6 separate regions of the Homo sapiens genome follow, and all the other regions are reported to be linked to region 5. Evidence: microRNA targets listed by miRTarBase, many of them from high-throughput screens and not tested one by one. Region 5 holds a microRNA gene; each other region holds the end of a gene's coding sequence.
The links. The annotated mature microRNA hsa-miR-1976 reads CCUCCUGCCCUCCUUGCUGU and lies in region 5 at 1,505-1,524, opposite strand. An mRNA with a match to its seed (bases 2 to 7 or 8) in the 3' UTR can be bound and repressed. Matches are read on the target gene's strand: a 7mer-m8 pairs with bases 2 to 8, a 7mer-A1 pairs with bases 2 to 7 and ends in A, and an 8mer does both.

Region 1: the mRNA of SSPN is a reported target of hsa-miR-1976. Seed matches in the 3' UTR shown: 7mer-m8 at 4,127-4,133, 7mer-A1 at 2,334-2,340 and 7mer-A1 at 1,896-1,902.
Region 2: miRTarBase lists AP1S3 as a target of hsa-miR-1976. Seed matches in the 3' UTR shown: 8mer at 2,257-2,264, 8mer at 2,792-2,799 and 8mer at 3,880-3,887.
Region 3: miRTarBase lists SPTY2D1 as a target of hsa-miR-1976. Seed matches in the 3' UTR shown: 8mer at 3,291-3,298 and 8mer at 3,515-3,522.
Region 4: the mRNA of UBN2 is a reported target of hsa-miR-1976. Seed matches in the 3' UTR shown: 7mer-m8 at 4,429-4,435.
Region 6: the mRNA of PIWIL1 is a reported target of hsa-miR-1976. Seed matches in the 3' UTR shown: 7mer-A1 at 4,489-4,495 and 8mer at 4,094-4,101.

What each region holds. Positions count from the first base shown.
Region 1 is chr12:26,230,323-26,235,665 of GRCh38, reverse strand. It overlaps SSPN (sarcospan), which reads right to left. Exons shown (of 3, transcript NM_005086.5): 3 at 889-4,955. The coding sequence ends at 4,590. The region is part of intron 1 of SSPN-AS1 (SSPN antisense RNA 1); the gene reads left to right. Among named protein-coding and RNA genes, the nearest start is that of SSPN, 37 kb to the right of the region's middle.
Region 2 is chr2:223,754,095-223,759,523 of GRCh38, reverse strand. It overlaps AP1S3 (adaptor related protein complex 1 subunit sigma 3), which reads left to right. Exons shown (of 5, transcript NM_001039569.2): 5 at 774-4,198. The coding sequence ends at 809. Among named protein-coding and RNA genes, the nearest start is that of AP1S3, 81 kb to the left of the region's middle.
Region 3 is chr11:18,604,836-18,610,264 of GRCh38, reverse strand. SPTY2D1 (SPT2 chromatin protein domain containing 1) reads left to right here. Exons shown (of 6, transcript NM_194285.3): 6 at 311-3,862. The coding sequence ends at 404. It also overlaps a transcript of MISFA not described here. Among named protein-coding and RNA genes, the nearest start is that of MISFA, 7.8 kb to the right of the region's middle. RefSeq lists a silencer at 1,529-1,823.
Region 4 is chr7:139,297,017-139,302,445 of GRCh38, reverse strand. UBN2 (ubinuclein 2) reads right to left here. Exons shown (of 18, transcript NM_173569.4): 18 at 1-4,659. The coding sequence ends at 4,610. Among named protein-coding and RNA genes, the nearest start is that of TRR-CCT4-1, 41 kb to the left of the region's middle.
Region 5 is chr1:26,550,752-26,556,097 of GRCh38, reverse strand. It overlaps MIR1976 (microRNA 1976), which reads right to left and starts at 1,556; the gene lies at 1,505-1,556. RPS6KA1 (ribosomal protein S6 kinase A1) reads right to left here. Exons shown (of 22, transcript NM_002953.4): 5 at 4,621-4,701; 6 at 4,375-4,454; 7 at 2,601-2,707; 8 at 1,847-1,884; 9 at 1,360-1,502; 10 at 877-947; 11 at 473-561.
Region 6 is chr12:130,371,251-130,376,602 of GRCh38, reverse strand. It overlaps PIWIL1 (piwi like RNA-mediated gene silencing 1), which reads right to left. Exons shown (of 21, transcript NM_004764.5): 20 at 5,280-5,352; 21 at 3,966-5,121. The coding sequence ends at 5,005. Among named protein-coding and RNA genes, the nearest start is that of PIWIL1, 36 kb to the right of the region's middle.

The DNA of each region.
Region 1 (5,343 bases), not on the chromosome of region 5:
ACCATGGAATACTATGCAGCCATTAAAAAGGATGAGTTCATGTCCTTTGCAGGGACATGGATGAAACTGGAAACCATCATTCTCAGCAAACTAACACAGGAACAGAAAACCAAACACCACATGTTCTCACTAATAAATGGGAGTTGAACAATGAGAACACATGGACACAGAGAGGGGAACATCACACACCGGGGACTGTCGGGGAGTGGGGGGCTAGGGGAGGGATAGCATTAAGAGAAACACCTAATGTAGATGACGGGTTGATCGGTGCAGCAAACCACCATGGCATGTGTACACCTATGTAACAAACCTGAACATTCTGCACATGTATCCCAGAACTTAAAGTATAATTAAAAAAAAAAAAAAAAAAGAAAGAAAGAAAGAAAAAGAAAAGAAAAGAAAATTTAGATCAGAGAGTGTGTTCTGGGCTTGTGAGTCCTGGGCTTTACTAAGAACATAAAAAGAACCACTGTATTTTACAGTATAATCAACTGTTTAAATTGCCTCAGACTTGGGTTCTGATCTGAAATGGAAAAGGCTGTCTGTTTTTCTTTATAATAAAATAGAGAATATGACTTGTGAATCCCATTCTTCAGGACAAACTTTAGTTGCTATTGGTAGATATAAAGTAAGAATCAGCATTCCAGGTACGTTTTACAAGACTTTTTCCAGCCAGACTCTCTTTGCCTTGGGAACAATTACAACCTTGACTTCTACGATGGATACAGAGTAGCAAAGCAGAGACAGTCACTGGAACAAAGGAGTCACAGTGAATATTGGTTTTTGTCTTTCCAAAAACAGATTTTTGAAATAAACACTAACTTGAGAGATTTTATGTGTACCAGTTCATCTGTAACATAAGTTACTTTAAAGCACGTCCAAACAGTGTTTTCAGAGATTATGAAAATTTTATTAATAAAGAAAATCTGCATTACACATATCCCCTTTAAAAACAACCACCTCAAACATGTAGAAATGCTTTATTTTGTATTTGCTATTTGATCAATGCCAGAAAAATGAATCCACAACACCAAAGTACAGACCAGTATTTTTGAAGGGGATAATAATCATTTGAGATAATAAACTACTAGAAAATCAGAAGAAATGATTCAAGGTATTCATTTCAAAGGCTAAACCACTAATTCTTCATCCAAATGAATGTTTCCACTGTGAGTCAATACATTTGCCATCAGTTCTTTTTAATGCTATCCTGAATACACAATATACACCTAAAAACATGATAGAGTGCTCTGAGAATAGCAAGAACTGATAGCCAACATGATTTACAGAAATTTATGGCTATGTAGCAACGGTTCAGAGACAATCTCTAGAAAATATGAAGGTACTCTTCATGATAGGAAAGGATTGGTTTTGCAGGGCAGCTTTTAAGTTCATTTCTGATTGTCTTTAAATAACCACTCTACCTTTGTCCCTTGATCTCACCCCTTGCTAAAATTTTATAAACATATTCCAGACATACTGCATGCAAAAAGGGAAGTATAAGAATATTAAGATTCTCATGCCCTGGACATGAATAGAAAACATGTACATAATGTGTTCTCACTGTCAGAACAACCTATAGAAGTGTAAAGCTGGAAACCCCTCAGTAGAGAGATATACACTTTTAATCCAAAGAAAAAAAACAGTGAGGCCTGTTACTTGACTACAGTTTCCAGGGCTCTGGTGTAGCTATATTTTAGGCATAGCTCCAAGGAGCAGCCTACACAAATTTGGATGGAGCGAGGGAGGCACAGATGGTGGTCACGTGAAGGCACAGACCGATCGAGTGGGCTCGGCTACAAAGTCTGTACATTTAGGCTGGTGTATTCCTCCTGTTTCAAGTACTGCCAAGTCCCGGCTCTTCCCCGTCTTTCCAAAGTCTTGATTCATTTAATTCTCCTGAAGGAGGTGGAAGAGGAGGAGGGTTGCACAAATCTTACTCTTTCGTGGTTTAGAGGAGACAGTCACCATCTTGGCGCCTTGTCAGATTTTAAATGTAACATTCTGCTAAGTGTAAAGCTGTGTATCTGTTCCTTTTCTGTTGCCATTATTGTAACTTCAATATTTGCAAAACACAACATCAAAATACTTCAAATCCAGCCCAAAGCGGTTATTCATGCAACACAATTCTTACACTTATCAATATACAGCGAGCTCATAGCAAAGGGATCTTTTCTTTCTTTCTTTTCTGTTTAGTTCTTTCTATTTGTTTATGATTTTTTTTCCTTGGGGACTTAAGAATGATTTAATCATACAATAGTAATATCCCCATTTTATATATGTATAGTATATATGTGTGTGTGTGTGTGTATGTGTATATATATATATATATATCTCCTGACGGTTATACTATTATAAAGCTTATTACAATGTCAACTCTTACAAGTTGCATTATTTAGAAAAAGGAAGCACAGAAGCTAAAATGATTCTACCATTTGAAATACCCTGTGAATTACTGGTAAAGCATAGAGCACCTTAAGGATATACAGAGTCTTAATTTTTAAATATAAAAACTTGTAGTGTTCACTATAAAATGTTGTTGTTAAAGAAATTCGGGATGTGCTTTCAGTGGTGCCTAATTCACGGTTACTAGCATTAACTGCTACTTTCTTACTCTTTAAAGGATGGACTACAACATTCCAGATTCTCAGTTATTTTCTTCTTTGTGTAGGAAACTCAACCAAAAATCAAAATGGATTCAGTTACTGGCTTTTTTTTTTTTTTTTTTTTTAATAGGGCACAAGGTATTTTACAGGTCCTCATCATTCTGCTTGGTATTCTGTTGGTGTAACTTTTGTGTGTGATAAATTCTGCTCCAGAGACTTATCCTCTAAGCTCTCCAATGTGTCTTTTTAGCTGGAGCTAATGTGTAGGAAGGCCATTTTTAAAGCAAATCAAAACATTAAAAGGTTTAACATCTGTTAATCGGGTGTTTTATCTAGAGGACATAAAAGATATTTACAATCCTCTAGCTTACCGACTTAACGCTTTCCTTTATACTGGATATTTATATTGTGTAGAAATTGAAACCATTATCACAATCAGTGGAATTATTCCACTTTCTTCTAAGACAAGCAGGAAAATGTTTTCCTTTTAGGTTAGAATTTCATGATTAGTAAAGTGTATCAATAGGCAATGCGGAGAGGCGAATTGAACTCAATTATTATCTTAATTTCTGCTTTCAACAAAGCATACTGATAAAGTTCTTGATACCATTTATGTTTCATGAATTTCCATTTTTAGCTCCTTCCTTAAAATATGGATACAGTTCAGAATTTAATAGCAACAATAATCACAGAGAGAAGTCTCCCCACCTTGGGGCATTTGTGCTTTAAACCACAGTCACTTAAAAACAAAACAACTAAAACTACCCTCCAAGTCAAGGCCATATTGCTCAAATAAGAACTTCAAAACATTATTTTGATTTCCTAGGTTGACTAAGCATACGAATTAATAATAGGATTATGTATCAAATACAGTTTCATGAATGGAACACATCAGCATTACCCAATCTTCCTCAAACATAGATTGGTTGCCAAGAGAGATGCTTTTCAACATATCACAAATGTGCTGTTTGTATAAACACTTCCTATTACAAATGCTCTTGTTTTTGTTTAAATGGGTGTTTTTAACCTGAGCTATTAATAATTTTTTTTTTCCTTGTGGTGCTTGGCTTTCAGAAGAAAGAATCTTCAGGCCTCTGCTCTTGTGAGAGTAATTTCTCTTAACACCGACAGTGCAGCGTAAGTACAGTCAGAGCTCATTAAATAGACTTCTGAGCATAATTATAATTAACAATTAGCTAGAAATTAGTTTTAATGATTTGTTTTAGATGATAGAATAGAAGCATAATGTAATTATTTTTAAACCTTCTACATCATTTAGAATACAACTACCACCACCTTTCAATTATTGAGAGGCAATCATCTAAAGCATTTGGCAAGTGATCCACTTACGGAGCCAAGCTAAGGGAGCTGAAGAGAAGAGGCCGCCGCCCCAACCCAGGTGTTGTTAGTTATCTAGCCTTTTGCAAAGCCTCTTCCGTTTCTACTCTGCTCTTTAAGCTATTTCATGCCTTGAAGATGTCTCTACCAGGGAAAATAAAGAGATTCAGCTCTTCCCCCACCTCCTGCCTGTCTCCAAGACAGAGTGGGGCTGATGACTGGAGGTGGGAAGGACTAGAGGAAGATGCCACAAAATTTAGCAACTGGGCCTGAAATTCACCATTCACACCATCAAACTGGACTAACAGGAAAGAAGATTATGTAAGGAATGGATAAAATGAGTTAACAGGAATTAACTCCAGACTGTAAAGATAGATCTATGCCATTCTTTCCTTGTTCAGTGTTCTGTTAACTTTTAATATCCCAAAATCAATTTGGATCTTGCTTTCTCTGCAAGAATGTTAAAAAAAATACAATAGAAACCTGAAGAAATGCTCTTTTGTTTCATAAAAATATAAAAATATTCAATTAGAAGAGTGACTTTTATTGTCAATTTTTTTCCTTTCTTTGTTTAAAATTTTTTTTTGTTTGTTTAACCTCAGCTACTCCATGTGCTACTTTCTCTCGCAACTTTGAGCAAGAATGTTAGATCTTTTGCTGGGGGCCTTCGGAAGCCGTGAGGGAGCATATCCTGACACCCACATAGAAGACCTGGTACCTATGTTTCCACATCACAAAGCAGGCCAACAAGCACACAAGGCCGCAGACCAAATTAAGAATCATCTGGATGAGTAAGAACAGTTTGAAAGTGCCAGTGACGCTGGTACAGTCCGTCACATCCCGGTAAACAAAGGTCCTGCTGAGCGGCTCCGAGGAGGGCAGTTTGCACTGGCAAGAGTCGAGTGTGGTCTCACAGGTAAACTGTGTGAGCTGCGAATAGTGGTGGGCGGCAAAGGCCACGGCCAGCACACAGACCGTCAGGCCCAGGGCACTCAGCAGAAAGTATAACAGCTGCAAGAAAGCAGAAGAAAACCTTTCTGGTTACAAAGAACATTGGATGATGATTTGCAAAGCGAATTCATCAAAACTGTTCTTTTTCTTCCCTCCCAGAAATTTTCTGATGGAAAGGCTGTCTCTTCTTAGAAACACAACACCCAAGACATGGAAATAGCTCCATGTTTATTTATTAGTGGGTAGTTCTTAAACCCTGATCACATTTTCACTTGCCATCCAGATGTTGGGCCCTTTTCAAGAGTTGTGACAACCATATTAGCTGGACTGTGGAATGTTTTTGTCTAGATATTGCCAGCAGTTTAGATGAATCCCAAACAAGCTAGCCATCCCTGGATGACATGTTGTGCTTATTTTGAACTCAAGAACTTCTGATATTAAGACTGAA
Region 2 (5,429 bases), not on the chromosome of region 5:
TTAAGAATTTTGGTCTGTTTATCTTTTTTGTCTTGACAATATGTATAATAAAGATGCTCTGCACAATATAGGTAACGATACATATGTTATACAGACGTAATTCAGAATTCTCTAATACACGTACCTGGATGTGGTCCTCCTGATCATTTTAGCAAACGTGTTTATCTTAAGTCAACAGTGATATCTTGGCAACTTTGCTTTAGCATTTCAATCTCTCTCTCTCTCTCTTTTTTTTTTTTGTTTTTGAGACGGAGTCTCACTCTGTCACCCAGGCTGGAGTGCAGTGGTGCAATCTTGGCTCACTTCAACCTCCGCCTCCCGGTTCAAGCAATTCTCCTGCCTCAGCTTCCCGAGTAGCTGGGAATACAGGTGCATGCCACCACACTCGGGTAATTTTTGTATTTTTCATCGAGATGGGGTTTTGTCATGTTGGCCAGGCTGGCCTCAGGTGATCTGCCCACCTCAGCCTCCCAAAGTGCTGGTATTACAGGCGTGAGCACCACACTGGCCAAGCATTTCTCTTATCAGACATTCACTTTATGATCAAGCTTAACTTTTTCTCAGTTGAAAGTTACTTAATTCCAGCCCCATATGGATGTGTATACAAATTATACTCAAACTTTGATTAGAATGCAAAGATTTTATATCCATGTATCCTTTTGACAACTTGTTTTCAACAATGGCAAATAAATAAAAGAATGCAGAAGATTTCACAGTCTGCGGAAGGCTGTGACTTAAAGGGAAAATTGTTCTAATTTATTGTTCGCTTTCAGACAATGGAAGAATACATGAACAAGCCTACATTTTAACTGGAAATCTACTTGAAGACTCCAGCACTACATGTTATGAAGCTGTAAATAAGCAACGCCTCCCATCCGGTTTTTTGATGGAGCCTCAGGCACCATGCCAAAAATAATTTAAAGGGATTCTTTGTTAACTAACAAAGTTAAAGTTGTTTAACATATTTATAATTACTATGTGTCTGTATTATTAAAAAAAATTATGTGTCTGTGTTATACTGTATAGGTACTTGTAGCTCTAAATGTTTAAAGTAACTACCACCTAACCCAACAGACAATATTTGTAATGTATTAACTCCATGTTATGTTTTTAAGCTGGTTTAGATACATTAGCTGCAATTTTTTTTGCATTTGACACAATATTGTAATAATCCATGATTTTGAATGTAAAGTATATATGATGTCATTAATACTTTTTCTAAATGTTTAGTTTTCTAAATTGTATAATAATTCAAAATTATGTTAATAGTGCAGAGTTTATATGTAATGCTAGACATTTTTCATACACTTAATAGTACTGTAACTGCAATTCACATACAAAATGTCTGATTTTAATGTGCTGAATTCATTTATTTTTTTTAGAATTGGGATTATGAAAATAACCAAAGAGTATAGAACTTAATAAGTGTTTTTGATGCCTTAGAAGCTGCTATCTTGACTGAGGTTTTAATTTATCTTTTAATTGAATATAAGGGACATTCCAATAAGGTTTTCTATGAACTATATATTTATTAAGGTTTATAGAGACCTAGAGATACAGCATCTATGACTTCCTTTATTATTCTAAAATAGTATGATAAGAATTAATAGCAATAATAATTATTGCTACTATTTTTTAAAATTCACGTTCCAAGCACTCTTAGATGCTGGAAATTTCATTTCAAATATGTTTTAATGTATCTCTAATGCATTTGAAGACTTATTACATGGCTTACTTAGAGCATTTAAGATTATCACAGCCTATATGGTAGATTCCTTTCCTTCTTTTTTCTTTTCTTACCCTTTCCTCCCCAAAGAAAAGATTTGCTGCTGACCATTATTACTGTAAGTATATCACATTTGTGCTTCCTGGAATGAAAATTCTGTATAACCAGGTCCTAACAGTGATCAGACATATTACAGGGAAATAGCTTGTAGGCCGGGAGTGGTGGCTTACACCTGTAATCCCAGCACTTTGGGAGGCCGAGGCAGGTGGATCACTTGAGGTCAGGAGTTCGAGAGCAGCCTGGCCAATATGATGAAACCCCATCTCTACTAAAAATACAAAAATTAGGCCGGGTACAGTGGCTCATGCCTATAATTCCAGCACTTTGGGAGGCAGAGGTGGGCGGATCACAAGGTCAAGAGATCAAGACCATCCTCGCCAACAAGGTGAAACCCCACCTCTATTAAAAATACAAAAATTAGCCGGGAGTGGTGGTGCGTGCCTGTAGTCCCAGCTACTTGGGAGGCTGAGGCAGGAGAATCGCTTGAACCTGGGAGGCAGAAGTTGCAGTGAGCTGAGATTGTGCCACTGCACTCCAGCCTGGGCGACAGAGCGAGACTTCGTCTCAAACAAACAAAAAAATTAGCCGGGCATGGTGGCAGGTGCCTGTAATCCCAGCTACTCAGGGGGCTGAGGCAGGGGAATGGCTTGAACCCAGGAGGCAGAGGTTGCAGTGAGCCAAGGTCATACCAGTGCACTCCAGGCGGGTGACAGAGCAAGACTGCGTCTCAAGAAAAAAAAAAAAAAAAAGAAAAAGTAAAAGCTTGTAGTATTCTGTCTTGCTGCCTGCTATTTGATGTTTTACCTGTGCATTTTCAATGTTAGCTTTGAGGTCTGGTATCATTCATATTAGAGTGGTTTGGGACCTCCAGTGATTTCCTAGAAGAGTGTGTTTCCTGTTGGATTCTTTAGGAGATCCCATCTGGTAGATTTTTAGAGAACTCGATGGAAAAATGTTCTCTTTAGTTCATCTCAGCAGACATATTTAGGGAAAACAGCAAAGCAAGCAGGAGAACAAAGGGAAAAATTCACCAATTCCTCAATATAACCATTGTTCAAAGGAAATAACTCAGATTAGCATATAAAATAATCATTAGGCTTTTACTATCCAATATTTCTTCAGGTTACCATGTAATTACAATTATGGCATCAGCTTGAAGTTTATCATGTATGATTGACCACTGTGTTTACTTTAGCTAACCTTCAGTTTTGTGGTTTAACTTTTTAATGTGTTAGAATTTTTTCTTTCTTTTTTTCTTTCTTTCTTTCTTTTCTTTCTTTCTTTCTTTTCCTTCCTTTCTTCCTTCCTTCTTCTCTCTCTCTCCTTCCCTCCCTTCCTTCCTTCCCTTCCTCCCTCCCTCCTTTCTTTCTTTCTTTTTCTCTTTTCTTTTCTTTTCTTTCTTTTCTTTCCTCGCTTCTTGTCACCCAGGCCAGAGTGCAATGGTGTGATCTCAGGTCACTGCAGCCTCCGTCTCCTGGGTTCAAACGATTCTCCTGCCTCAGCCTCCCGAGTAGCTGGGATTATAGGCATGCGCCACCACGCCTGGCTAATTTTGTATTTTTGGTAGAGTTGGGATTTCTCCATGTTGGTCAGGCTGGTCTTGAACGCCGACCTCAGGTGATCCGCCCGCCTTGGCCTTCCAAAGTGCTGGAATTACAGGCATGAGCCGCTGCACCCGGCCAAATTCTTTATTTTTCAATACAATTTTGTAAAGATGGACCTCATGTAAATCCATCATAGTTTTTCCGGTTCTTTTGAAATTTGTCACCATATTTGGATAAAGGTATCTCTTGAACCTCATTCAAATATACTACACATGTTCTGGATAATTCCATATTAGACACTTTAGTTATGGACAGGGCTTCTCAGACTTCAATCAGTGTCACACATAGAAAGTAAATATATCTCTTCTGGGCAAGGTGGCTCACGCCTGTAATCCCAGCACTTTGGGAGGTCAAGGCGGCAGATCACCTGAGGTCAGGAGTTCGAGACCAGCCTGGCCAACATGGTGAAACCCTGTCTCTACTAAAAATTCAAAAATTAGCCAAGTGTGGTGGCACATGCTTGTAGTGCCAGCTACTCAGGAGGCTGAGGCAGGAGAATCGCTTGAACCCGGGAGGCAGAGGTTGCAGTGAGCTGAGATCACGCCACTGTACTCCAGCCCGGGTGACAGAGTGAGACCCTGTCTCAAAAAAAAAAAAAAAAAAATGAAAGTAAGTAAACATATCTATATGGCACAGTGGGGTAAATTTGAGGGATTTTAGGGACATCTTCCATGGGCCTAGGCTAAAATAGTCATTGTGTTTTCTTTATATTATATAATTACTATAAAACTACCAAGAGAAAGACAGTAAATGTTAAATTTCTATAAAACTTCCAAAATAAAATGTTTTAACATGTTTTAATGAGGAACTTGGTGTGTTTTCATGAATACACTTTTTTTTAAGTCAGATTTTATGTTTGAAATTGCTACTCATAATTCCTGGTGATGTCTCTTTAATATGACCTCTTTATTTTCTTGGTACCTACCAACAAGAAGCAACTTCAAAAGTAAGTGGTAGCAAATGGGAGAAGAGTATTTATTGCTTTTGCTCCTACTGACTTTTCTCATCATTCACCTACATTTTGGTAATCTGATCTCTTTACACGTAATTAATGATGTGATCATTTTTTAAATCTAGTGACAGCTCCTTTTCTTTCATTAACAAATGTAAAGTTGACAATTTTTGTGATAAAGCAAATGGATTTTTGATTCAAACTTTTTTTTCCATATCAAACCTCCTAAAATAATGATAAAGCTTTAGTCAAATGTATTGTTCTAATCTTTTTTGAGACAGAGTCTCACTCTGTTGCCCAGGCTGGAGTACAGTGGTGTGATCTCAGCTCACTGCAACCTCCACCTCTGGGTTCAAGTGATTGTTGTGTCTCAGTCTCACGAGTAGCTGGGATTACAGGTATGCGCCACGTGCCTGGCTAATTTTTGTGTTTTTGGTAGAGACGGGGTTTCACCATGTTGGCCAGACTGGTATTGAACTCCTGACCTCAAATGATCTGCCCACCTCGACCTCCCAAAATGCTGGGATTACAGGCGTGAGCCACTGCGCTCAGCCAGCGTCTTCTTTAGAATTCATGTTATAATACCTACGAAACATCATTGGTGAACTGTGTTTAATTTCACCTTTCTAAGTTATAATCAATACATTTTACTGGTAAATTTTACCTGATAATGTACTTATTCACAATGGTCCCTGAAAATTTTTGATTAAGTTCATTCAGATGCTGAGGAATATGAGCAAAGCAAGCCAATAAATATTCTCCAATAATTTGCAAAGGACAACCATTAATTTTTTTTTAATTCTTATTTTAACTCTTGACACAAGTTTACCAGTAGACCATGTACTTTGGTATTAAGCAGAAATCATCTATTTTGTCACATATTGCTAAAAACAGAAAGGTCTGTAACATCTAGGGCTGCCTTTTTTTTTTTGAGTCAAGGTCTGGCTCTGTTGACCAGGCTGGCGAGCACTGGCATGATCATGGCTCACTTCAACCTTGAACTCCTGGTCTTAAGGGATCCTCTCACCACAGCCTCCCAAATAGCTGAGACTACAGGAATGCACTGCCATGCCTGGCTAATTTTTAA
Region 3 (5,429 bases), not on the chromosome of region 5:
ATGTTAGTTAATGAATAAATGCTTCTTGCTGTTTATTTTTAAAAGCTATTGAGATAAACCTATATTTTATTATTTTAATGGAAATAGTAAGGTTTTTGTGGTGTGTGAGTTCTTTTTCCCACGACAATTTGAGTCTGTGGCCCCTGGTAAAAAAATATCCCTGCTAGTTTGTTTTCAGTGGTAAAGCCTTGAGGCATTTTGAGAGCATCAGCACAATCCATGTGAGCTCCCAGTTGGAATTTTCATTCTTTTTAAGGAAAGTGGTCATCTCATGTATATTGACAAATACCCTTTAAAAATTCTTTGGCAGCTTAAGACTGGGTATGCAAGAGGACTTAGAGGAAATGAGACGTGAAGAAGAAGAAATGCAACGTCGAAGGGCCAAGAAGCTGAAGAGGCGTTAGCTGCTGCTTTTATTTTTGTGAAATTCTAGAGCTGCTCTGCTGCAAGGATTTCCTGCCTTCAGACTGAAGAAGCCCCCTTATCATTTTAGATTTATACTTGGGTACTCAAGGAGAAGGAATGCATACTGTCATTTGCAGGCTGTCATTTGAGCATAAAATATTTTCAGATATTTTCCAGGGTGAAATCTGTAATGCAGATGATATAATGCCCACTTGTGCTCTTATGAAGTTAACTGTTCACAGATGCCAGCCTTGATCCTGATGAGCTATGCACTCTAATGTGGGGCCACTCACCAGTCAGCCAATCTTTTATTGTTCCTTTGCTACTTTGAAAGGAAAAAAAAGGTTGTCTCTTGATTTCTGTAATTCTTCTGCTGATCTGTGAGTAGGGCACTGCCCTGCTCCCAATCAAACTTAGTCTTTTTATGAGAAACCTGGACCTTCCATGAATGTTGCCAGCAATAAAGTGACTTGTCCTAATCTATGGATTGAGAACTTGAAAATGTAGAGTAGAATTTATAACTATCATATGGATGTCATCCTGTGACTTTGAAGTACAAAGTAGAATAAATTCTGTATTCATGGATTGGATGCTGAGCATTCTTACTCATTAATTTAGGTGGCTAGGAATTAATGAAAAAATTTTCAAGTTAAAATACAGGTTATAACAGTATAATATTCTTTTCTAAGTTTTCCTTTCAGATTTACTGTTATGTTGGCTTTAGTGTAAGACAAGGTCACTGTGCTGATTGATTTTTATCTAAAAAAATTCATTTTTATATCGAAGAAAAAATATTTTATTCAAACATTAGATTTGAAAGAGTAATAGTTTATAAAATAAGGAAGTAACATGTGAGGCTCTCCCCTCCTCCCCTCCCCCATCATAAAGATATTTTGAAATCCCAAGGTGCCCTCATACCTCTTGACATTAATGACTTCATTTTTTAGCTTGAATTTGTTAGCAAATATTAATGGCAGAAAACCAAAAACTAAATTTATGGTATCGAGAGCACCACCTTCTCTTTTTGCCCATATTGCACTTTGATTTCAAACTATGCACTGTGAAGAGATTTTTTTCCCCAGGTAGGAAGGGATGTTCCCTGTTATCGTTATTTTACTGAGCTGTGGAAACTCATTTTTACCCTTTTTAAAGTCATAAATATGGACTTAATAGCCCTTAACCTTCAAGTCCAAGCAGTTCCAATCAGGCTGACTTAGGATCATGCTGGAAGGAAGCCAAGTCTCAAGAACTGTCAGCAACAGAAAATGAGATATGATGCTAGAGAGCATTTGTCCTTGACTGTAAGTACAGAGGCTTAGGGGAAGTGAGACATAAGCTTGTAGGAATAATAAACGTTCTACAATAAACGTTTTGGCTATCTTAAGCCATTGTATGGGGGGGATTAGGAAGTAGGAGGGATTGTCCTACAACAGGCCCTTATACTTCAACAGCCCAAATATTTTGGTTTATTCCTTTTTATCCATAAAGTCTTTATTCTTCAAGTTTGGGTATTATAGATTACCATTGTTAGCCTCCCTTAATGGGACCATATGAGCCAGGCTTTTAAGACGGACTCATTTTGAATTGAGTTTCAAACTTTGAAAGTGCAAGGATTTAATTTTTAAGTTGAATCCCATGAAAGGTGTCATCATCACTAGGAATAACACCCTTTGTAACTACATATAGAACTGTTACAATGGTAGCAGAAAATCCTATTGATTTCATCTCACCCATTTCAGATACCTTCAGTGAAATTAAGGGTAGTGTGATGTCCCATGTAATAAAACAGGCTTAGAACATCAATTCCTCTGCTGCCATTTATGTGCTTTTATTCCCCCTTCAAAAATTTTTTATTGGATATATATATTTTTCAGTATTCAGACTCTGAAATCTGTCATTACAATCAAGTGCTTGTCACAGCTGAAAGATTTCTGGTGGCTTAAAGTTTACTAGCAGTAAATTTATGATATGGTACAGTTCTTTGTACAGAAAGGCACCATTATGTTAGAATAAATTTCCAGAACTTAGTGGGAAGAATCAGGTTTTAACCTTGTGTGTCTGTTACTTCTGAGTGCATTTCTATAATATAAATGTTGATTTGCGTCAACATTATAAAAGAGCACTTCTGTGGCTCATTTAAAAGAAAAAAAAGGTTAAGTCTTTTAAATTTTGGCCTTGTTTCCAAATCCTGTCTTCCATGTTGTTTTTCTGCACTTCCTGACCACTCTTATAAAAAGCTCACAAACCTTTGAAGAAACTGGAGTAGGCTGTTATTTCATTAAGGTTTACAAATTAAATGCTTGATTTTTAATGTATTCTCTACTGTTTTGATTTTTGGATTTTCTTAATTCAACATTTGAAGATGTGCCTTTTGGGTAATGTTAATCACGAATGTAGTAATATTTCATGATTGTAATAATGTTACATGATCATGGGTGTGGCATTCTCTAACAAATGATGTGAAAGGAAAGTAGTTTTCATAAAACTCATGGCTCTGATTGCACAGTCCCACTTGCTTTTGATATTGCTATGTCAAAGCAAAGGGCACTTCTTTTAAGGCTACTTTCAGAACTTTGTATTTTCGCTAAACTATAAATGCAGTTGTGTCCAGTTGGAGGCCAGGGTACCACATGTCACAGGCGGCCTTACATGTGTGCCGTGAAAAGGTTCAAAGACCGTTAACAAAAAAGTAAGTCTGGCCGGGCATGGTGGCTCAAGCCTGTAATCCCAGCACTTTGGGAGGCCGAGGCGGGCGGATCACTTGAGACCAGGAGTTCGAGACCAGCCTGGCCAACATGGTGTGAGACCCCGTCTCTACTAAAAATAAAAAAATTAGCCGGGTGCGGTGGCACACACCTGTAATCCCAGCTACCGGGGAGGCTGAGGCAGGAGAATCGCTAGAACCTGGGAGGCGGAGGTTGCAGTCAGCCAAGATAGCACCACTGCACTCCAGGCTGGGTGACAGAGCGAGACTCCATGTCAAAAAAAAAAGAATGTGGGAACTCAAATTTTCATTTTTAATGTAATCCCCAAGATTTTCTCCAAGAAATAAATTGTTGTTTTGTATTTTGTAACTTAAAAGCAGCTATTGGTAAATTTCTGAGATATAGCAGGAGACCAAAACATGTTTGGAAAGAGAATAAATATATGAAGAGAGACTGGTTGTTTTATTTTCAATGTATTGAATATATTAGACTACTATTTATTTTCTGAGTGGATGTGATTAAATATTCAGACGTTTAGTGTATGATTAAGAGTGAGATAGAGATTTCTTTGGAGTAATTAAATCCATCCTGTCTTTTACACAATGGACAAATCAAGTTAAAAAAATTTTTAGATAGCTTAGCTTGTTTTCTGGTGCTGTTGACCTGCAAGAGAATATACTTTTGCATATACAGGTGAAAGTTTTGCAATTTATGTATACAAGAAATTGTAGGCATTAAAAATATTTTATTGATATTTTTGCTGGTTTGCATTTATTGATTAAAACTTTGAGATATTCTTTATCTCATCACCCTGAACATTTTTCCAGCTAGAAACCTCGGTATACTCATCACACTTCAGAGATATGGTTTGCCTATTGCACACACTCCTCTGCTTATTCTCCCTTACACATTCATGTCTGCTCTAACATGATAGAGCTTCTCTCCCCCTACCAGCTTAGAGAACTGTTCTGCTCTCTGACCCATGTTGGGAGAACTGTTAGGTGGTCAGAGCAATGGAATCTTTTAGTGGCTCAAGTTTTGGAAGTTTACTCAAATGGAGGGAGGACACAGCTGGGTATATGGTTCCTCTTGTCAAAATGAGCAGGGTCCTATCTCTTATGATAAAAGCAGCTTGAGATGGCTGAGAAGAGGAGTCCTTAGAAATGTATATGAGGCAGGCTGGGCACAGTGGCTCACACCTGTAATCCCAGCACTTTGGGAGGTAGAAGCAGGTGGATCACTTGAGGCTGGGAGTTCGAGACCAGCCTGGCCAACATGGCAAAACTCCGTCTCTACTAAAAATACAAAAATGTGGCGTGCGTTGTAATCCCTGCTACTCAGGGGGCTGAGGTATAAGAATCACTTAAACCTGGGAGGTGGAGGTTGCAGTGAGCCGAGATTGCACCACTGCACTCTATCCTGGGTGACAGAACGAGACTGTCTCAAAAAAAAATGTATTACGAGGCAAATGGGCAGAGCTATACAGCCAGAGGATGTAAGTACTTAACTCACTGGAAAATGTTGAGTCTAAATCACATAAGAAATAGAAGATGCTAGTATCCTAGAGTCAGAAATTACTAAAGTTTTGCTTATGGATTTTGAATTTATTTTCTTTCCATTAAAAAAAGGTAATCCATTAATTGCAAAGAGCCACTTACAAATAGTTAAGCAAACTTCCCAAATAACAAAATGTTTTCTATGTAAACAAAAGATCTGCTTTGCTGGAAAAGGTATACTTCTTTTGAATACTGGAACTGTATCAGTCATCCTCAGAATGGGTACAGTTCCATACAATTTGTTTTTAAAGTATTTACTCCTGTTAGGTCTCTCTCAGGCTCCCATCTTTTCAGTAGTCATGAAAAAGAATTATCAGGCAACTTCCTGGGTTTTCTTTTCTCTTTTTTTTTTTCTTTTTGAGACAAGGTCTTGCTTTGTCACCCAGGCTGGAGTGCAGTGGTGCAATCTCGGCTCACTGTAACCCCCACCTCCCGGGTTCAAGCAATTCTGCCTCAGCCTCCCAAGTAGCTAGGATTACTGGTGCCCACCACCACACCTGGCTAATTTTTGTATTTTTAGTAGATACGGGGTTTCACCATGTTGGCCAAGCGGGTCTCGAACTCCTGACCTCAAGTGATCCGCCTGCCTCGGCCTCCCAAAGTGCTGGGATTACAGGTGTGAGCCACCACGCCTGGCCTAACTTCTTGGGTTTTCAGGTGAGGGAGACATTTAAACAGCAAGATCTTGGATATCCCACAGTCTCTTGTTTGGCTCTTTTCCTTGGCACATGAAAGTGTGAAGGGAGAAGGCCTGGATCTTAAT
Region 4 (5,429 bases), not on the chromosome of region 5:
CCAAAGAGCTGGGATTACAGGCGTGAGCCACCGCACCCGGCCGAAAAGATACTTTTCTAATCCACCCACTTTAATCAACTAAAAGCAATGGAATAAACAAGGCAGAAGTTTTGCAAACATGGAAAGGGGAGTGTTTGGAAAGGATGCAATGGTACAGCAGCTCCTAGTTTTATATATATGTAATGTATGTATCTTACACATATATCCATATACATAGAAAGCAAAGGAAGAGGGTTACACAGCATGACATGATGTTGACAAGTGTGAGATTCTTCCTCCTGAATCCCCTGACTTATCAGTCTGTACTTTAAGATAATGTGACAACAGTTTCAAAAGAGAGGAAAAAAGAAAGAAAAAAGGCACTTAACAAAGACAAAGGCCTGAATTGAGCATGTTTTAGAGGAGTAATATAAGCATTTTACCAGAGCTAAGAAATGATTTACAAAGAGTTAAACTTTTCCCCTTAAAATTTTATAAAATAAAATTGCATAACATGTTGTGATCATTTATCTACTACTGCACTTTTCTTCTGCTTCATTATTACAAACACAAAAGCCCCCTCAAAAGCAAAAAACAACAATCATACATGCACAATAGAAAGTAAAAGTGCCTCTTTTGAGAACATTAGGTCAGCAGAATTACAGTGCTGAAGCACAGGAAAGTTCTCAAGTTTGGCCTGATTATAGATTTTTCTCATTCTTCTATTTCCAACTTTAAAAAAAAACAAAAACAGAAACAAAACAAAAAACAAACAAAAAAAAAGCAAACAAATTCCAAACCTAAATAATAAAAACAACAAAGGGACCAGTGTGCTTTTACGGTACACTCCTAAAATAAAGTATCCTAATTCTATACATGAGTCAAACTAGAGGACAAAACATCCTAGAAATAAAGAACTGTAAATTAAAGTCAACCAATACAGGCAAAGTTCATTTTACAAATGTAGCAGCAAATATGATAGATCACTGGAGTTCTAAGAGATGATCCCAAAGGACGCAGAGTTCTCATAACCAATGGCAGTTTGAACAACAGCAGAATTTTCGTTTCAGAAAATGTCTTGAACCAAGTATAGGTGGAAAGGGGTGTGGGAGAGGGCAACCAGAGGACAAAGACTAGATTAGAGGTGCCTGCCCTTTCCAACCCTGGGTAGTAAACAATTTAGATCTGCTTTGGGAAAAAAATATCCTGGGTTAAAAATCATGTCCAATAAGTTGTTTTCAACCAGGTGTCAAACCCACAGTATTCCAACACATATGTGCCCGGTTCTTCCCCTTACCTTCCTGATTCAATAAACCCTATTCAATGTCCATGATATGAAAAATGTAATTTGGGCTAACAACATCCATCAGAGGGGGGGTGGGCACAAAAGAATGCACTATCACCATCTTCTAATTTCCGCAAAGTATCAGAATTTTATGACTACAGATTAGCCTCATTTCCTTTCCCAAAACCTTTTTCTTCAGGCTGTTTTAAAATCACGATTTCATTTACCCTCTGACCTCAAAAGCATACAAGAATTATAATTGAATTATAATGGAAATTATTGCTTGCATTTATTCTGGATGCTCTGAATGAGCTTGACACTTTGCTCCCAGTCTCCAACTGAGGCTCAGCACAGCTATCTCCGAGGACAACCCTGCTGACTGTTATTGCTTGTGAATACTGAGGATTAACTTGTATGTACAGTAACAGCTTATATATCAGTGAAGGCAATTTAAAATATAAAACAGTTGAAAACAAACAGCTTAATCTTCCTGAATCAAGAATCCCAAGGAGTGGGATATAATCATGTGTGCTGATTATTTTTGCATTTGGATGTTGCTAATGCTCTTCAGAAATACACGTTGCTCTATAGATATCCTTTCCAATGACTCACCATTTTAAAAAATAACATAATTTGATTTTTAAGTGCAAAAATACAGTATGAGTCACAAGTCTCTGTGCTAAAAAATAACCAATTTATATGTTTGTTTTTAGTAATAAAAACGGTAAAGACAGGTGACCATAAAGTATGGGCACCTTTTTCAATGTTATGATCTAGGAAAGAAATAGATTACTATTTACATGTAGAAACTCTCTGATCATACTTTATCTATACAGAAATACAACGATGTTTGACTGATTCATACAACATAAAAGGGGGGTCCTGACTGAAATGAATGTAAGTCGTCAGTGCAGGTGGGGGTTTAAGGTAGGGATCTGACAGTAGTCCTCAAGGAATCAAGACTAAAGAGAACACAGAAGAATCTCCACATTGTATTCTTGGAGCCAAGGGCCTTCAGATATTTTTACTGGTTAGTATAAAATGTTACAGGGAAAAGAACTGATTATCTTGTTCTTTTCTAATGATGACAGTCACCAGGGATCTTCATATGGCATGATTCAGAATTGATGGTTTTAAGAAATTCAAATGATTTTTTGACTCAAACTAGTCATTTATATGAATGTATGTGTGTATGTATATATACATACAGACAAACATATATACAAGTATTCAGGAAGAGAAATTAATACGCACTTCGACTTCTCTTGTGGTATGAGAAGTAAAACAAAGGCTACCTTCCCAAAGGAAAATCCCATCACTTCCCCTAGTATGAAGCAAAGACCTTTTTATTCATATTTCGTAAAAGCAAGAGGTCCACTACATTTGAAAAAATTAAAAAAATTGGGCAAGCTTCCTTAATTGAAACCAAGCAAATCTTCATCAAACATACTGAATTCAAGTCAAACCTCTCTGCAACATCCTCCCAGTATCCTTCCAAAATATCTACTGGGGTTCATACTACATCCATATTTGTTTTATTGATAAACTAAATTCTTAGAGTCAAGAAATTATATCAGTGATTCCTTTGAAATAATCCTTTCCCTTTACTGTAACAAGTTCTTGGAACTAAAGTTTTCAGTTATTTATTAACTTTTTCGCTATGAAGCAAGCCAATGTGACTTTGAAGTCAAAATATAGGCATACAGATCTGAACCGATCTGTGGTTATTTATTCACAGTCCTGTAGGGTATCTGGGACTTTTGTGTATAAAAGAAAAAAGGGCCTGGTTAATACTCTTAATTGAGTAAATCTAATGGTATAGGGTAATGTATAATAAACACATATGCAATAAATCTTGTCACTACCAGTCTATTTTTTTTAGGTTAGTGTCATTATAAATGGATGAAGCTTATACCATTTAGAGTTTACACCATTCTCTGATATAGTATGAAAATATTCAGAAGCTTAAAAAACTAGAATAATGCGGCAAAAAAACCCATCAAATCAAATGTATCCAAGGAGAACCATAAATTTTTCCCTTAACATCCTTTGTTGAATATGCTATTTGCATAAGGAAGCTATAATAACTAAGGAGTCTTATTTTCTGCAGATTTACTCACATACCAATACACTGAGTAAATAGTGAAGCTTTAGGATCTCAAATGCTCCAAACAATTTCACTACACTGGATACAGGGAGTAAAAATATGTCGTGATTGTGATCCTAATGTGATTCCTCCCTTTAAAATACCATCTTAAAAATTCAAAAACTATATTCATGCCATTTGAATGACCAATGAAGAAACATAGTGTACACTTCTACCTGTTTATACCAATAGCTAATAATCACCTGAAGGACCACTAGCTAAAAGAACAGAAGGAGAAGTTGTGAAGTTAGATGAACTGGGGAAACTTAGAGTTTATGTTGCTGCAAGGGCTAAAAGCAGCAAAGCAATAACCCTGTAAAGATCCCCATTTCTCAGGAGAAAAATGTGAACACAGTCACATTTTAACATCAAGAATGGAAATAAGAATTAACCAGTCAATACTAGATGCACAAATCACCTGAAGAAAAGAGTTAAGTACCTGCTTCTGAACGGAAGATGAAATTGACCCTTTTACAAAAAGGGGACATCTAGGTTTCATCTCTTAAGAGCAACAGGCTCAACTTCCTGATTTTTAAAAATCTAGATGATTTAATAATATATATCACTGTGCTAAAATAACTTTCCTGAAGGATCTTTAGTCCACTGATTGAGGGAAGTTGCTACACACTGGAGGAGATTCAAGTTTGTTCAGGATTTTCGAGGGTGTGCTATGCAGCTACTGTCTATCGGAGATAGAATCATTATTATTTCTTTTTGTGGCAAATCTGCTACACAGTCCATTCAAATAGACATGATCATTATTCCTGACAAACTGGCCTAATTCCAGTTTTTAATGCCTTTTATTACCAATTATGTCTGTAAGTGTTCAGATCCAACCCCCAGGATGGATGGAGTTTACCCAAATTCTCTTCACTTCCTTCTTCCTCCCCCGGGAAAAATCAAATTTGTATTTCTGTGGGTTTGACAACTGAGTCTCTTTCAAGTCTGTTAATACGGTAACTCTGTCATTCTTTAGAAGAGACCAAAGGTCACTAACTTTGCACAAAAGCATTTCTTCCTCCTGCACCTGGCTTTGCTCAAGTAATGTTTTCTTTTCTTTTTCCTCCTCACCACAGTGCTTGGGACGAGAGAATGTAAACATCGACAGAAACAGCAGCCCTATGACCACATAAGTACTTTCCCATCAGGTAGATTCCATCAGTCAACTAAACATTTCGTCTCCTTTGCTTGCTGGGCAGTCACTGAGATTTCCGTGGTAATTTAGTGTCCCCTTTACTTTGGCCTCCATCTGAGAAAAAGAGACGTTAAATTGGTATGGGTCCATATGTTACAAAAACCAGCTAACAAAAACAAAGCAAAAACAACAATTAACTTTTATCTTTTGTGGATGACATCTCTGAAAAGATATCACTTTTAATATCTTGCATGCCATATAGCATTATAGAGGTTGATAAAACATCATGGAGATAAAAACTCAACAACAATGATCCTCTTCTCTCAAATGACTGTGGTTTTCAGTGTTTTTTAAATATGATTTCAACAAGTATTTATCATTTACGTCCCAGCCAATTGTGTCAAATGCTGTGAGAGGGTTATAAAGGAACCAGAAGACACAATTCCTACCTCCGAGGGACCCACTACATCTTTCAACTCCTTTGGAAGACAGGTCAATTTCATTTTTTTTTTTTTGTAAGTGAAATAAAATTTCTTGCCAGGACACAGCATTTCATAATTCCTGATTATTTGTGTAAACAAACGTAGCAAACTTTTCATCTGTAGTGAAAAACATCCAGCTGAGTGTGTGCTCATTCTAACCTAGCTTTAAGTGACAGGAAAGTCTGCTACTGGGACAAGGCTCTTTCCTTTTTTTTTTTTTTTTTTGAGACGGAGTCTCGCTCTGTCGCCCAGGCTGGAGTGCAATGGCGCGATCTCAGCTCACTGCAACCTCTGCCTCCCAGGTTCAAGCAATTCTCCTGTCTCAGCCTCCCGAGTAGCTGGGATTACAGGCGCACACCACCATGCCCGGCTAATTTTTGTATTTTTAGTAGAGACAGGGTT
Region 5 (5,346 bases):
ATCTCCCATTGAGACGAGGAACCTGCGGTGCAGAGAGGTGAAGTCACCTGCCTGGGGTCACTTAGTTCATAAGTGGCCTCATTCGTTTAACAAATATTTATAGAGGGACTGTTTTGTGCCAGGCAGTGGGGACCTGACACAGAGCCGGGATTGGGACCTATGCCTTCTGACTCCTGAGCTCATGCTATTTCTCTTGTGCCAGCAGCCTTGGCGGAGAAGCTGTGTGGGGGCCTCTGTCCTTGTCCCCAGAGGGAGTAGGGATGACTCAGTTCCTGCCTTCCCCCTACACACAGGTCAACTCCCCCCTCCACAACACCACACATGGAGCCAGAAAGCAGGGTGGCCCGCGGCATTGTCTGCCCACACAAAGGACAACGGCCCCTTTCAGCCCAGATGTGGCCCTGTGGCCTAGGCTGCAGCTGTACCCGGCTCCCCATCGCCACATCCCCTCCCCTGAGCTGGGGCTGCTTACCGAGCCGGTTGGCAGGATTCCGCTTGAACAGGGCCCGCAAGAGGCTCTGGGCTTCAGTGCTCAGAAACTGGGGCATGCCTAGCTTCGCCCTGAAACAGCCCCCGGGACTCATCAAGGCTGAGCCCTGCCCCAGAGGCCCCATCTCCCCCGGCCCCTGTCCAGATCTAGTTCCCAGCTCAGTCTAGACAAGCCATCCACTAATTCACTTCCCAAAGGCTTCAGGGATCCTACCCACAGGCCCCCAGGGATGAAAGAGGGGCTCTGGAAGGTATAATGTTTAACCCAGAGGAGAGTCTCATTAGAGAGGGTAGCTGAGGCAGGGACAGGGTAATAATATTCTGACCCCCAAACTGGGGCTGGGGCTTGGAGGAGTCCATTGTTATCAGGGCAGGGCTGGGGCTTACTTCAGAATCAGTGTCATGGTCTCCTTCCGGTCCTTCCCCTGGAAGGGCAGGGAGCCCGTCAGCATCTCAAACTGCAGAGGACAAGGATCTATTCAGGCTCTGATCCCTGTCTCCGACACACCTCCCGCCTCCTCCCAGTCAGACCCCTCTGCCCCAGTCCCAGGATTCTTGCTGATACATCCAAGTCAGCCTGGAGCAAGAATTATGCCCGTCCCTCTTGCCTCTGCCAACCAGACCACCAGGAGCAGCGGTGGGGGCGCGAGGCTGGGGAGAAGGCCAGCACTGGGTTAGGCGCGTCCCAGGTGGGGTCAAGCCTGGGATCCTTCCAAGGAAGAAAACTGCAGGTGCATATAGGGTGAGGCCAGCTTGGCTGTGAGAGGAGACGGGGAGAGCCCTAGAAATGATCAACCCCCTCACTGTACAGATAGGGAGACTGAGGCCAGAGGCTTGGGCTGGATCCTTTACCCCTGTCTGGGCACTCACCATCAACACCCCATAGGACCACCAGTCCGCACTATGGGAGTGGCCCTGGCGGTTGACGACCTCAGGGGCCATGTACTCCACTGTCCCGCAGAAAGAATAGGCCTTCTTCTCGTGGTCAATGGCCTCTTTGCTCAGGCCAAAGTCTACAGCAAGGAGGGCAGGAGGACACACCTTAGGACCCCTGCCTTCCTTGCTGCCACCCTTTGCACACCCAACCCCCGTGCCCAGAGGCCAGAAGGCATCACCCCCATGACACTCAGGAGGAAGCTAAGGCCCAGAGAGGTCAGGTGACTTGCTCAACGTTACACAATGAGGGGCTGGGATTCCAGCTGAGGGTGTTCCAAGTCTGAGGCCTGAGTTTTTGACCACTTCCAAGTAACTGGCACGGCTTCTCGGGAAGAATGAGCCCCCAGCACTCAGCCGAGACCTATCATGACCTTGTCCTGTCCTCCCCTGGGTCCCGAGGGGGCAGGCGCCCTCCACTCACCAGTGAGTTTGATGTGGCCCTCCTCATCCAGAAGGATGCTGTAATAGAGAAATAGTGGTCAGGGCCCCTCAGCTGTGGCCGTGTGGGTGATGGTGTTACCACAGGGCTGTGGGAGTTGGGTTCAGCCCAGAGGAGGTGCTCCACCCAATTCTCTCTGATGACTGGGCGGGTGTTGCAGGGTGGTAGCAGTACCACGCAGGGGTGTTGCCTATCTTTTTTGCTAATCCTTGAAGCAACTGTGTGAGGCAAGTACTATTAGGGCCCCGTTTTGCTAATGGGAAAACTAAGGCTCAGGGCAGTTAAGTAGCTCTACAGTCATTGAGCTAGTAAGTCTAGCTAGTAGGTGGAGACAGGATTTGAATACAGGGCTGCCTAACACTAAAGCCAGATCTTATTCCAACTCACCACCTGCCCCTGGCTCCTTAGTTATCATTTGAGGGTAGTTAGATATTAGGGAAAATTCTATAGGGCTTTATCAAGGAAAGACCTCTAAAGGTGGCATCTCAAATGTCACACTAGATTAGCAAAAAAAGACGGGCAACATTACCTGCATGCAAAGTACCTGGCCCTTGGTAATGGTAGCATTAGTGACTGGGCAGCTGGCACTACCACCCACCCCACTCACCCATCCCTCAGATTGCCCAAGAGAGGGAGACGTTTCTGGAGAAAGCCATGCCCACCCACCTCAGGATGGCCCTGTCCTAGAAGAGGCCTCCCCTGGGGAGGCTGGGGTGGGGCTGGAGGCTTCACTCACTTCTCAGGCTTGAGGTCTCTGTAAATGATACCCAGGCTGTGCAGGTGATCCAGGCCCAGAGCCAGCTCAGCCAGGTAAAACTTCACATCCTCCTCCGTGAACATCACCTGCAAAAGACAGGAGGGGCCTTCAGCAGGGACCTCCTCTTCCTTAAGAGCTGGGGCACTGGGCAGTCAGCAGCTTCCTGGTCCTGAAGAGCCACCCTGGGAGGACCCTTGGAAACCCCAGGCCATATAGCCTTCTCATCATACAAAGGATTTGAAGTATGAAATGACTAATACGCAAGCCACTCATTGTGGCACCATTCAGAAATAGAAGGGGTGGGAAACAGGCCTAGGGTCCAAGAGTAGAAGGCTGGAATCAGCCCTCTCCCCTGCATAATGGAGTGCTTTGCAGCCATGAACTGGAACAAGGAGTTTCTCCGTGTTCTGACATGGAGTGAGCTCCAAGATATACTATCTTGAAAAAAGCAAGGTACAGAACAGTGTATACAGAATAGTACTTTTTACATAAGGAAATGGGGGTAGGAATGAACATATATCGGATTTGTTTGCAAAAGAAACATGGGAAAGTTAAACAAGAAACCAATAAAAATGTTTACCTATAGATGGGAATAGAGGGGGCTGGGGTGGGAGGAAGACTTCTTCATGAATATTTTTCTTTTGAATCATGTATATTACCTATTCAAACATTAAAATCACAATTTAAGCCGGGCACGGTGGCTCACACCTATAATCCCAGCCAGCAGTTTGGGAGGCTGAGGCAGGCGGATCACCCGAGGTCAGGAGTTCGAGACCAGCCTGGCCAACATGGAGAAACCCTGTCTCTACCAAAAATACAAAAATTAACCAGGCGTGGTGGCGTGCACCTGTCATCCCAGCTACTCGGGAGGCTGAGGCAGGAGAATTGCTTGAACCCGGGAGGCGGAGGTTGCAGTGAGCTGAGACCCCACCAGTGCACTCCAGCCTGGGTGACAAGAGCAAAACTCCATCTGAAAAAAAAAAAAAAATTACAATTAAAAAAAAAAAAAGCTAGATTCTCTTTAAAGTTTGAATTGTACGAATGGTCCCATTTTCTAGCTCAAATCCTTTTTTTTTTTTTTTTTTTTTTTGAGACAGAGTCTCGCTCTGTTGCCAAGCTGGAGTGCAGTGGCGCGATCTTGGCTCACTGCAACCTCTGCCTCCTGGGTTCAAGCGATTCTTGTGCCTCCGCTTCCTGAGTAGCTGGGATTACAGGCACACTCCACCATACCCAGCTAATTTTTGTATTTTTAGTAGAGACGGGGTTTCACCATGTTGGGCAGGATGGTCTTGATCTCCTGACCTCCTGATCTGCCCACCTCGGCCTCCCAAAGTGCTGGGATAACAGGCGTGAGCCGCTGCGCCCAGCCTCAAATCCTTTTATATTGGTTCAAAATCCTTTTGGATGACATACGCAAGATGACTGCTAAAGTCTCTGGCTCTCTGGGTGACTTTGGGCTTCTCCCCTATCTTCACACCTCTGCCCAGAGCAGCCCTGGAAGAAGGCAGGTGCAGAGGTGAGAGGAACCCTTAGCTCCCTGGAGTTTCCTTGGGAGAAACTCTCAGAGACCTTGCCAGCGTATGGCCTCCATTCCAGGGTGCGTGGTATTTCCTGGGCCAGGGGCTGCTAGGCAGGCCTGGGTGGTTCCAGGTTCAAGCCATACCAAACACATTCTGTACAGGGCCCTGGGATGGGAGGACTTGTCGTCCCTCAGCTCCATCCCGGGGCCCTCTGGCAGTAGATGTCAGCTCACCTCTTTTGAGAGCCGGGTGAAGAGGTCCCCACCACGCAGGAAGTCCAGAATGAGATAGAGCTTGCCCTCGGTCTGGAAGGCTGGGAAGAGGGAGAAAGGCAATGGTAGAGTCGGCGCGGCCTTATGATCTGCTTCTCCGGCCCTGGCTCCCTTGGCCTGCCAGGCAGGCGGTGGGACAGTGTACAGACCACAGGCAAGGGCGAAGGATGGGTGGGGTAGGAGCTCAGGCAGGGCCAGAAGCTTTACCATAGTGCAGCTTCACCACGAATGGGTGATTTACATCAGCCAGGATGTCTCTCTCCATCTTGGTCCGGACGCGGTCACGTACTGGCCAGACGAGAAAGGAAGTCACCAGTAGCCTAGACACTCAACACAGCCACTCCCAAGCCCCCGCTAAGGGATCTCTTTTCCACTTGTTCCTCCAGGCCTGAGCTCCCAAAGCCCCCTCACCCAGGGCTTTGGGGACACTCAATCCTCAGGTTTCCTCCTTGCCAGTCTGTTTCTGGCTCCTTGGCTGGCTCCTTGTCCCCACCCCTCACAGCAGTGCCCACAGCTGGGGCCTTGGCACCCTGCCCATCTCTCTGGTCCCTTTTCCCACCAGACCCCATCAAGACCTGTTAATCAGCCAGTCTGAGCAACCTGCTCCCCCAGGGTTCTCTGCTTTGTCAGATCCTCAGACTTTGCCTCTGCACCTCCCCCTGGCATGCCTTCACCAGCTCTGCTTTCCATCTGGCATAAAAATTCCCAAATTCTGGTCTCGGGGCTGGTAAGAACGGCTACCTGGTGAGCTGGATCCCTGGGCCTAAAATCCCGATCTATGGGTCTGGGTGGGCACCCTTCATATTATTTATTTATTTTTTTAAATAATACAAGTTATTGGGCAGTTCTGATTCTCAGCAGGTTCTTTGACTCAGCTTAGGCCTCACCTTCTCCAGGAAGCGCTCCTTAATTTGCCAAGCTGGGTTAGGGCCT
Region 6 (5,352 bases), not on the chromosome of region 5:
GAACATTTGGAAGGATGAAGTCCTGATTTACGGAGCTGGAACAGGGCTTCAAGAAATCACAGTTTAACTTTGAGCATACTGAAACACCAGTTCAACCAGAGGTTGTCAAATGCGGTCTGGAGGCCCCTGGAAATCTCAGACTCCTTTGGAGTTCTGCGAAATCAAAATTATCTGTATGATACTGAGAGGTCACTTTTCCTTTGCACTCTAACGCGCCCTCAGGCATATACAGTGTTTTCCAGAGGCTACACGTCATGTGCTGACAGTATCATTCTGACAATGGAATATGGGCACGCATATTTTTAGATGTTTTAATTTTTAATATGGTAATTATCAACAGATATAATTCACATAAACAAAATCTCTGTGTCCTCAGTAATTGAAGAGTGTCAGGCAGTTCCGAGACCAAGAAGTCTGAGCAGCATTGTGTTGGACAGCCTAAGGGAGACGTCTAGGAGACAGCTGATGATGTGAGTGTGGAGTTCAGGGAGGAAACTGGGCCTGGAGATGTGGTCTGGGAAGCATCTTCATACAAATGAGTCATGGGTGAAATCACCAACAGAGGAAGAGCAGAAAGAAAGGGGATCCTGGCAGAGTCTGAAGGCACATTTAGGCCTTAGAGACAAGAACCAGCAAGAGACTGAGAAGGAACAGTCAGGTGTGGGGAGCCAAGAGAGCATGGCATCGTGGAAGCCAGGCAGAGCATGTTTCCAGGAGAAAGGGGACACCATGCCAGGCGTGCAGCAGGTCTGGCTGGAGGATGGCCAGGAATTGAACAGCTGGCACTGGATTCAAGAGAGGATGGGGAGGAAAGAAGTCCAGACAACACAGGAGTTTTGAGGGAAAGAGAGAAATGGAACAGTAGTTAAGGGTCAATGGGGCCCAAAAGGCTTTTATTTTTTAACATAAAAAAAAAATGACACCAGTTTTGCAAGCTGTTGGGAATGAATAGGAAAAGAAAAATACTAAAGCAGGGAAACAAGGAGAGACGAGATTCCAAAACAACATCCTCCAAAAATGAATGTCTTGTGCCCAAGCAGGTGGGGTGTGCTCTGGCCGAGTGCACAGACCGTGCGTGCCGCCACAACACCGGGCTGCAGAGCAAACGCGGTTCAGGTGGGAGCTTGTGAAGCTCTGCCTGGATTTTTAGCAAAATAGACAGTAGTTGAGAATGCGGATGGAGGTGGTGGTGGTGGTGGTGTAAGGAGACAAGGTATGAAAAACATCAGAGAGCTGTGGAGCCAATGGCTAGACATACATGTATTGACAGCATTAAATACCTGCTTGTGATCATGAATTGAAATACAACAATTACACAGGGTTGCGTGCTTTTCTCCAGCCGTGTTTATTTGCAAAGGAACAGGCAAGTAGGCAAAAAGCTGGACTTCACCGGTGTGTTTTAGCCAAGAATTAGAAGGAAAGCACCACAGGACAATGTGAGCAAGCCAGGAGCTACCATCTGCAAGGAGGAATCGGAGCTCGGGGAGCATAAAGTGGCAAAGGGAGGGGGAGCGGCTGACATGATCTGATCAAAGTAGATTCAAAGCCGAGTGGTTTCTTTTTTGCGGGGGTCGGGGTGTCTGGAAATATCAGTGAGGAGCAAGAGGGACACCTACCTCACCCTCCAGACCTTGGCAGACGAGAAGTGTAGGAGAGACAACAGCAGCACTGTGAGTGACCCGGGAGAAAGCCGAGTTTGTTAAAGGGAGATGTAAAGAAACCGCCCCTAAGAGGCTGTTGAGAATGAGCTCCAGAGGACACAGGAAAAGTTGAGGAGCAGGGGATGGTGTCAAAAAAGAGACTGCAAAGAGCTCCTCAGAGATGAGCCTGAAATACGAGGGATCACCTGGAGCTTTGGGCTTGTGGGAAGAGCCCAGGGATGGGGCATGCCACTGGTCGTGGGGTTCCCAGGCATGAGAGTGGGAAGGCTGCGATGGACGAGGGCAGAGCGCTGGACTCCGCAGTGCAGAGTTCTAGGTGCCCACTTGAGTTCTGGCAGCACAGGGTGCTTGAAGGGCAGCTTAACTCAGAGTGTAGAGGCCATGGAGCCTCCTTTGAATGGTGGCCTAGAGAGAAGAGTCATCTTACTCCAAGTGCAGGGACTCCCTCCTGACTACTCTTGAAAATTTTACAGTTTCTCTATTGTACACAATGGATTTTTAAAATCATTGGGTAGTAATAATGAAGGTAAAGAAAATTAAACCTAGCTTTTGAAATCTTGTATCTGAATGACAATACCAATTACACAAACTTTAAGCTTTTACTTAGAAATGTACGAAATATCTGAAGACTCGTATCATAGTATCAGAATGAAACTGCTGTTGAAAATACTTTCTATTTGACTCTGAGGAGAGAGCCAGAGCCGTCACTGTGTGTAAGCAGCAGGTTCAGGAGATTACTCCAAAAAACTCCTGTAGGACTTAGGGAATGCGTGTAAAATTGCTAAATAGAATGCTTCAATGAGTGTCACATTTTTGAATTTTGAAGGAAAATGTACCCAGAAAAGAGTGGACAGACTTCCTACAGGCATGCACTTTTGGGGAACCACCCACCAAATCCCTGGGGTTCCTTCAGGAACCACCAGGTAGACTGGTCAGACGAAGCTTTGGGAAGGGACAGCCTGAGGTCAGTGTGTTTAACACTAAAGCTTTTGGACATCCCACTCAGATACGCACATCCCACGTGAAAGGAGAAATTGGGATTTCACGGAGTCTTTGCTTTGTTCTTTGTGAGTGCGGCAGTGAATTCTCTGACAGTGCTCCGTGTACTCGGTGTGGCTCAGACATCAACCTAGTCTCTGTCGCCGCATGCAACAGGTTTGTCTGATGAAAACCACAGCAGAGGCATAACCAAGACGATGTTAAGGAGACCCCTTTCAACTAGCATTTGCCAAAAGTCCCTGGCAAATCACCTGGGACTTGTTTAATAGACTGTTCACCTGGCCTCTCCCCTGAGAGTCCCGATTCCTAGGTACAGTTTGGAACCCAGTCTGTGTTATCACAAACCCAACCAGGTGATGTCTAACAGATTAGTAAATTTGGGAAGTGTTACCTAGGATGATGACAAAACCAAGCAATACCCTTTTTTGGCTTAAAATAACTTCAGCCAGTTTTCTGTCCCTTTCAACTAAGTCTTTCTTGATATAGTGGGGTCTCTGGACACCTGCAACTTTTCCACAATTATCACATTTACCAATTTTTCACGGTTCTAAAGACATTAAATTCAACTTTCACTTTGAGGCAGAGCTGAGACCTGCTAAGAATGAGCTTTTCATGACTTAACTAACTGACTAGCCACCAAAATCCATAAATAAATTAATATTTTCCAGTCGTATGATTAGACTTCCTTATATTCCTTAATGCTAGGACAACCTTAAGCAACTTCTACCATTGAAATGTTTGTCTCTGGCCTCCTTTTGAAGGTCACACTGTTCTGTGTTTCTTGTCTTCTCATGCTTAGAAATCGAACAGGTTAAGGAACCTGGGCTGCTTGCCCAGAACAATGTTAACAACAATTATTAGCTCTAAGAACTAAAAGGAAAATAAAATGGTTTTCATTCATAATATGTTAATGAGGCTAAATTCAGAATGAGACCGTGTGCCACAAAGGTAAGACAAATGACTTGAGTGATCTGCGTTAGTTTAAATTACAGTTCCAGGGACTTGTGTATTGTCATTAAAGCTTACACTCATCACATTTGTAAGCAATGTTTAAAGGTGTTCCCGGGATTTACAATAATTCATTAATTTTAAGCCTTCTCTTTGCAAACGTTCCTGAGAATTCCTATAAATATGTAGATATAAAAAACTACAATTACCAACTTCACAACACCACAGACTTCTTAGTCTGTGCTTCCTTATAAGCTGTGGATACCCGTTCTTATACTACAAATATTGGAGGTGGCAGCATTTCCTTAAAAAATTTTACTCTGACATTAGAGTTCGTAAGAGACACTAATTGAGCTTTTTTTTTTTTTTTTTTTTTTTTTTTTTTTTTTTTTTTTTTGAGACGGAGTCTCACTCTGTTGCCCAGGCTGGAGTGCAGTGGCGTGATCTCTGCTCACTGCAACCTCCGCCTCTCAGGTTCAAGTGATTCTCCTGCCTCAGCCTCCTGGCACCACATCTGGCTAATTTTGTATTTTTAGTAGAGATGGGGTTTCACCATGTTGGTCAGGCTAATTTAGCTTTTATGAATGGAATTGTATGCACTTTTAAAAATTAAATGAAAAGAAAACGCACATACTTTCAGTAAAACAAGAATTACAGTTATTCAAATAAGGTGACAATCACATCAATTTTATTTTATAACAAATAGAATCATGTCCCAGTTCCAAAACAAAATAAATAGTAATGTTAATATAGAGATTTACTCATGGCCTTTTTTGTTAAAGAGTCTTAAAATGTTTCTTTGGACAATTTAAAAATTTTCAATGTTTTTTTTACTCCCATACAACCTAGCCCCCCTGCCAAATAAAAATCAAGCATATTTTCTCCTGTATCTTGTGTATAGGTTATATAATAGTACCTTTTATCTTTAAGATATGAGCTGAAACCCCACCTATGGTTGTAGTGAGCATCCTACTTTACGCCTCTTATCTCCTTTAAATTCAAAACAGGTATCTCAAAAATAAAGTTAATATAGGTTTATAAGTAGGACTTGCTCACTCCTGAAAGTACGTTTAAGTAAATCTCCAAACACATTTCAAATACTCTCAGAGAGTCTGTTTTATACTACCAAGTATCTTATCCACATTTCTTCAAAATAAACAAAAAAATGCTCACAAAATATCTATGAGAAACAAGAAGATAAAATATAAAATCTTAATTTTTACGTATAAAATAAGGAAGCCGGTGAATAGCAATGCTAGAAATAAAATGCTAGATCTCCTAATCCCCTTCCCAAGTTTCATCCAGAAAGATAACAGTTAAAAAAAAAGTAAATAAAAGCTTAAAAAAATCCCAAAGTCATTTCAAAAAGAAAAGCGGCTGCATCGTCTTCTGCAGGTTAGAGGTAGTAAAGGCGGTTTGACAGTGACAGATTTGGCTCTCTGTGAATACTCTGGCCAACAAGAAAAGCCAGCTTGTGGGCGTACTGGCAAGGAGCAGGAACACGAATGACACCCTTTAGTGGAAGGAAAAAAAGGTTCTATTACTCTAGACTTAGCCTCTTTCAATTGCAAATCTCAGTATTAACCCTAAAAGCCTTTTAAACCACAGCTATTTCATTTTGAAAAGTGAATGTCCTTTATTTGCTAAACATCAACAAGTAGAAGCACTTACTGGCCAGTTGTAATAGATGTGGCACAGCTTGTAGGTCAAGCGCTGTATGTGGTCTGGCTTCAGGCCGCTGTTG